Homo sapiens: one gene and its partner. The protein of the gene in region 1 purifies or fractionates together with the protein of each later gene. This does not show direct contact. Each region holds a gene or a part of one and is shown on either strand. Other genes may lie near its edges.

Evidence for each region. Proteins that work in one complex are often made in the same cells at the same time.
Region 2: the proteins of REXO2 (region 1) and SCLY fractionate together in Homo sapiens (co-fractionation; one large-scale study listed by BioGRID). This does not show direct contact.

Annotation. Positions count from the first base shown.
Region 1 is NC_000011.10:114,445,967-114,449,466, reverse strand, and holds part of REXO2 (oligoribonuclease, mitochondrial precursor), read right to left. Parts: intron 3,489-3,500; coding exon 3,380-3,488; intron 1,642-3,379; coding exon 1,588-1,641; intron 1-1,587. UniProt on the Homo sapiens protein: 3'-to-5'exoribonuclease that preferentially degrades DNA and RNA oligonucleotides composed of only two nucleotides. Binds and degrades longer oligonucleotides with a lower affinity.
Region 2 is NC_000002.12:238,064,001-238,067,500, reverse strand, and holds part of SCLY (selenocysteine lyase), read right to left. Parts: intron 3,145-3,500; coding exon 3,032-3,144; intron 1-3,031. UniProt on the Homo sapiens protein: Catalyzes the decomposition of L-selenocysteine to L-alanine and elemental selenium.

The sequences.
Region 1 (3,500 bases):
AGGAAGCTGTCCTATATTTCTAATTTATTAATTTTCTAAAATTAATAAATTTTAGTATTTCTAAAACTTAATCGACCACATTTGTAGAATACTTATAAACAGTTCATGGAACACAGTTTGAGAAACATTGCCCAATACTTGATGATGTCCCTCAACAAAACAGACTGACACACTTGAACATAAGTCATGACTCAGTCATCATAATAAACATCAATTATCAAACAGTACCTAACCATACCAGAGGATCTACCTCCTCTCTCATGGTGATTTGTGCTATAATCAGTGGCAGCCTGCCTCCATCTAAGAGCCTTTCTTTTCTTCCAATATGTTGTTTCTCATCTGTTGTATTCTGAGAAATCAGGTAACCAAGATTATTAGAACAGTGTGCAAGTAAATCAATAAACTCTGAATCATGGGCCAAGGGCCACTTCTAGAGAATTCCCTGCACAAATTTTAGTGCAAGAGTTTTATGACAATTATTTGTGTGGCTAAGGCAACCATCTGCTTTCTTTCCAGGACTTGGATATATGTCAGAGCCGAAGCTGCCAAAATTATAGCCTCTGGCTAAATAAAGGCACACAATATCTTATCCACAAAACTGAAATCCAAAACACACCTGAAAACCCACAGTACTTACAGAACCTATTATGTAGCAAAACCTGAGCAATCTTAATGTGAGGCTATTGACAGTCATCATTACTTATGCCATTTGGTGTGAATATACACGTTTCACTGCAGAATACCTATGTGTTTTATTATGGGCTGCTTCTCAAACCTTGTTAGGGATGCTACAAGATAATAAACAATACAGATGTAGTAACACCTTTCTAAAATCTGAAAAATTCTGAAATCAAAACATACCCCAGTTGTGTCAGATAAGGTAGTCTAGGCCTGTATGCCTGTGCTACAGTCTACATACACTCAATAAAATAATGTAAGAATGCCAGACTCTTTAGGGATTGGTCTTTCTCTATTTGCCTATAACTGTGCAAGGTACATCATAGGGGTTCAGTAAATGGTTTAATAAATGCTACCCTTAGAAGCCAGCTGCTAAACCTCCCATCAGGTTTCATGTTTCTCCTGAAAGACTACAAAATCAAAAAGAAAAGAACCAGTACAGGACACATGAATATACAAGATCTTTAAATTCCTTGTCTACTTGTACCTAAGGCTACAGACATAAGAGAAACAATCAGAAAAACTATAACAAGTGTCAAAGTAGGCAACTGTATTATAGAATTGCACACAAAAAGTGTTCTAATTTCAAAAGGCTGCAAGTCCATATCTTCTGTGGGAAGAAAGTTAACACGGTTCATTACTAGAAAGATTACAGATTGTTTCATCATTCCTATAAACCAAGCTATCTAAGAGTTTTGAAACAGCAATAAAGGCTATATAACCCTCTCAGAATGGAACACTGGAATCCTGACCAGAATTCCTAACAGTAAAAGAATGTTATGTTTATGCTAGTTGAACTTTATCTTTTCCCCGAGAAAAAAGAGTTAAGGGACATTATTTCAAGCAGTCAGGAATTTGGGAGTTAAGTGTGTGTCAGACTGGAAAACGCTTGGTAGAACTCAAACTTACCTATGAGAAGCAGCCTTCTTTGGTGCAAATTCATATTCTTCTGGATACCAGCGTCTATACACAGCAGAAATGGAACTCTCAAAGGAAGCTGTCTCAAATATACTGAACAATTACCTCCTTCAAGTAATCCATTAACATTGAAAATGGCATTTGAGTCATGATTCTCAAGTTGCTTCTTTGCCGGGGCCTCTATCTTCTACCCTCTCCTCTCTTTCTTCTATATATTTTCTATGAGCAAGCTCATCAGTGTGTAAGATTGCTAAATCTGGAAATCCAGCCCAGCCCTCCCTAGAGTTTCTGTCATGGATATGCAACTGCCCACTAGATATCTCCATCTAAAAATCTACCAGACACTTCTAATTCAACATACATCAAAACACACCCACCATTGTCAACACCTCCCCTGCCCCATCCACCATATCTACTCTTCTTCTTCTCCTTTTTATTTGAACACTGCCATCATCCACCAAAGCTGCTCAAACTACAAACATCAGAATAACATTATACCTCTTCCTTTTCACACCACCTCATTCGAACACTGAGTGTCTGTCAACTGACCCTCTCACATTTTTATCATACAAGCCCCTCATTTCCATGCCCTGCCCTTTCTCCAGTTCATTCTTCTCCCCAAGATGGCAGAAAAGCCTCCTTTCAGGCCGGGCGCGGTGGCTCACGCCTGTAATCCCAGCACTTTGGGAGGCCGAGGCAGGCGGATCACGAGGTCAGGAGATCGAGACCACGGTGAAACCCCGTCTCTACTAAAAATACAAAAAATTAGCCGGGCGCAGTGGCGGGCGCCTGTAGTCCCAGCTACTCGGGAGGCTGAGGCAGGAGAATGGCGTGAATCCGGAAGGCGGAGCTTGCAGTGAGCGGAGATCGCGCCACAGCACTCCCGCCTGGGCGACAGAACGAGACTCCGTCTCAAAAAAAAAAAAAAAAAAAAAAAGCCTCCTTTCTATCTTTCTACCACTTTTCTTGCCACCTTCGAATCAGAACGATCGTTATCACTCACTCTTCTACCTACACTTTCTCAAAGGAACCCCATTCCTTGCAAGATCATAGTGAACTTCACTGGCATGGTGTGCAAGCTCTTGAGGCCCTAGAACCACCTCCCACCTTCTCCAACCTCATGCTTTGCACTCCAGCATTAATGAATGCTTTGGGATTCATTTAACACATTTTGCCTTAGCTTCCTGCTCCCTCACATTCTTATACTTCTGTCTGCTCTCTCTGAATGCTCTCTCCTCAATAAAATGCCTGCAAGACTTCCACTCTTCTTCACATCTCAATTTCAAAGCTATTTCCTTGCTATGTAAAGGTTTCTCTGACTCCCCATTCCTCTTGCTCCAGCACAGTTAGATGCTGCTTCCCTTGTGACCTCACTAGTCCATACGCACATTTTCACTATAGGAGTCATCATAGAGTATATTTTCAGGGTGCGTTTTTTTACACATATGTCGATCCACTATTTTCTAAAGTACTTAAGAGCTTTTCATCTATATGTTCCCAGTCACAAGACTTCCACATAATATTAGTTAATCCAGAAAATGTATTGAGCACTTATTTTGTGCCAGGCATTGGCTTATTTACTGGGAACATGTCTGACGTTGTTGCTCCCAATTCTCACCAGTCCAGGGTAAGTTAAGGTCCTATACAAGCAAGAATGGGATGAGGAAGATATGAACCCACTTGGTAGCCTTAGTTCTACAGCTCTATCCAATTACTTTCCACAAATTCTCAATTAAAACATGCTAAATGAGGTAATTTAATGGATCCTAAATATAGCCCTTACCTGCACAGTTCTTTAACAGTGCTCACATCAATTATTCTATAATGAAGATGTTTCATGAACTGGGGCATGTATTTGTCAAGAAACTTCTTATCTTCATGAACTGAATTTCCTAGAAAGACAC
Region 2 (3,500 bases), on another chromosome or scaffold:
AAACACAGCAACCATGCTTGATGGGGCAAAGAAGGAAAGGCTCTGGCATGGGAATGCCGAAAGTTTCAGTGACCATTCTTAGTGTACACACCAGGAGTCCCCAAACTTTTTTGACCATTCAGTCTTATTTAAAAATAAGAAAAAATTGAGCAGGCACCGCTAAAACATATACTATTACGAAACATCATAAAAAAGAGAAATATAAAAAGCTGAGGTAAAATAAATATGCAAAGTAATTCTGCTGCTCCTTAACGCTACTGTATAGATGTCAGTTTTAGTAGTAGTTTCCTAAACACCTAAGTGGTGTTTAGGAAAACTCCATCATTTTTCTTGGTGACACTAAAAGTCACCGTAATAAACTGTCACCCTCACTCTCAGCCTTCCCTCTCTCAGTGATAATGGTTTGGCTGTGTCCCCACCCAAATCTCATCTTGAATTGTAGCTCCCATAATTCCCACGTCATCAGAGGGACCCGGTGGGAGGTAACTGAATCATGGCGGCAGGTCTTTCCCATGCTAGTCTCGTGATAGTGAATCAGTCTCATGAAATCTGATGGTTTTATAAAGGGGAGCTCCCCTGCACGCACACTCTTCTCTGCTGCCATGTAAGATGTGACTTTGCTCCTCTTTCGCCTTCCTCCGTGATTGTGGGGCCTCCCCAGCCATGGGAAACTGTGAGTCAATTAAACCTCTTTCCTTTATAAATTACCCAGTCTCAGGTACATCTTCATTAGCAGCATGAGAACAGACTAATACACTCAGGAAATGGCAACTCCATCCCTCAGCAGCCCAGGGCAAAAGCGTGGGCTCTTTCCCTTTTCATTCCCCGCCAATTAATCCACCAGCAAATGCTGTAGGCTCTGTGTTCAAACGATGTTCCAAACCTGACTCTGCCTCTCCACCGCCCAGCCACCAACCAAGCCAAGGCCACTGCTGTGATGTTCTCCTAGCAGGCCCCCACCAGGGTCCATTCTCCACATAGTGGACAAAGTAATGCCTCGAAAACCCAAATACATTTTGGGCACCGTGCTTCATCCCTCCCCCAACAGGGTGCTGAGTACACAGCTGGTGCTCAGTCAGTGCTGCTTACGTCAGCGGTTTCCAAAACCCCAAGGCCCTCTCAGGAGGTCCACAAAGTCAAAACTGTTTTCATGATGATACTAAGAGAAGAACTGCCTTTTTCACGCTCCTTTTCTCACAGGTATATGGTGAACCTTCCAGAGGCTTCCGTCACTATGATGTGACTGCAGTGGGCTGGACGGGGAGGTATGAGCGCCAGCTATCTTCCAGCAACAGGCAGTAAAGAGACTTCCACATGCACAACAGTGCAATGCTCACTAGGTTTCTTGTTTTGCCGAAGATAGTTTATTTTTCATAAAAATTCATGAATGCTGAGCTTATTTTCAGGGTTTTTGTTTGTTTTGCTATTATAAGCAAGACTGTGATAAATATCTTAGGTATGTAAAATCCCCACATCCTCAACATATTCCTTAAAATAAATTTCCCTCAAAGGCTTTAGATAATATTTAGGCTGGGCATGGTGGCTCACACCTGTAATCCCAGCACTGTGGGAGGCCGAGGTGGGTGGATCACAAGGTCAGGAGTTCAAGACCAGCCTGGCCAAGATGGTGAAACCCCGTCTCTACTAAAAATACAAAAATTAGCCAGGCATGGTGGCGCGTGCCTCTAGTCCCAGCTACTTGGGAGGCTGAGGCAGAAGAATCGCTTGAATCCGGGAGGCGGAGGTTGCATTGACCCGAGATTGCACCACTGCACTCCAGCCTGGGCGAGAGCGAGACTCAATCTCAAAATAATAATAATAATAATAATAATAATAATAAAATAAAATATTATTAGTTTAAATAACAATATTGTGAAAATAATTAAACCACTCTATAAATTGATTTTTTTTCTTTTGCATTTCGATCTGAGTAGCAACACAAAGTGAACTGCAACACTTTTGAGTTTATGGTTCTTAATTTGTGGAAACAAAGGCTATCAAGGAAACCTAAAAGCCACTGCCAGGCTTCATTCAGGTCCAGAACATGATTTCTCCCTGAGAGCGATTCCCAGACTTTTTCATGAGACAATGCCTGTCATCGGCATTTAATTATTCTCCATATTTTCAAGTCTAATACGTCAGAAATTTCAATTTTACTAGAGGAGAGACTGGATACGAGGCAATGTGCAGAAGATTAGCCAGAATAGACCAACAAATAAGCCAACAAATAAGTTAATGAATGACTAGTATCTGAGCTGAAGGGCTTTGTTATTAAGTTGCCGTGAAACGTTTAATAAGCAAATGGATAGGAGAACGTATTAAACCTGTAAATTGTACGCAAGTGTTACTAAATCGTATGGCCTGGCAATATTCTGTTTGAAGTTAATTTAGTTCATCATCATCCACAGTTAACACAGTTTATCTTAATTATCTCTCATAAACATGAAATAAGAAAGGTAAGACTTTAGCTTGCTCATCTGTCTGAAAAACAGAATGTAACTCTGTCATATAACTGACTTGAAGCAAATTCTTCTCCAAAACCTCCAATTTAATGGTCTACATTACAATAAGAATAAATTGGAAACAAATAAGAATATTCATAACTAAAGTAATTAATGAAAAAGTAATTTTCATCTTTAAAAAGGGCCAGGATTATATGTTATCCTGATGACCTAAAAGACATATTTTGCAAATTCTGTAAGGATTGACTGAGCTAGATCTGTGAAGTGCTCCACAGGTACTGACTGCTACTTCAAGGAACTCTCAGTAGACACCTTTCTCATCTGGGAAAGGGTGACAGGACAGCATGTTAAAGATTAAACATTAAAGGTTAAAGATTACAGTATCGACAAGGCTCAGCTTACAAATGGGGCCTTCCCAGAAAAGAAACTATCAAAAATTACAGCTCAAGAATTGCAGCTAACAGAAACCTATTCAAAACAAAGCCGTCACGTGTGGGTGTGCAATTTCTCTAAGAGCGCCCCATCCCCATTATCTCCCATCAGTGAACACGTGCATCTTCTAGAATTACCTGCTGAATACGGGCTGCTGGGATTTCCCCAGGCTTCCCACATGGCCTTGGTCATGGCCTGGATAACTTCTGGCTCCAGGGGAGTCGTTGCATTATAGTCCATATAAACTTTCCTGAAGGAAAGAAAGCAAAGACACCCATTAAGGAAAAGGAGATGGCATATGGGAAATATGGCTGCTCTGTGTCTATCCCATCGGCAGGAGCAAATAATGTCAAGGGCATGGTGATCCTCTGCATAAGCACTGCAGGCATCCACAAGCTGCACTTGGGAATCTACAGATCTACACTACTTATGGAAAATGCATGCATAATTTCTAAGACTCTAGTTTTTGTCAATTTCTTTTATAATTGATAGGACTTGGATTTTCATTTCGGTTTTCAAAATTTCTTTCTAGCAAGGCACAGTGGATTGTGCCTGTAGTCCAGCCATGTGGGAGGCTGAGGCGGAATGACCTCTTGAGGCCAGAAG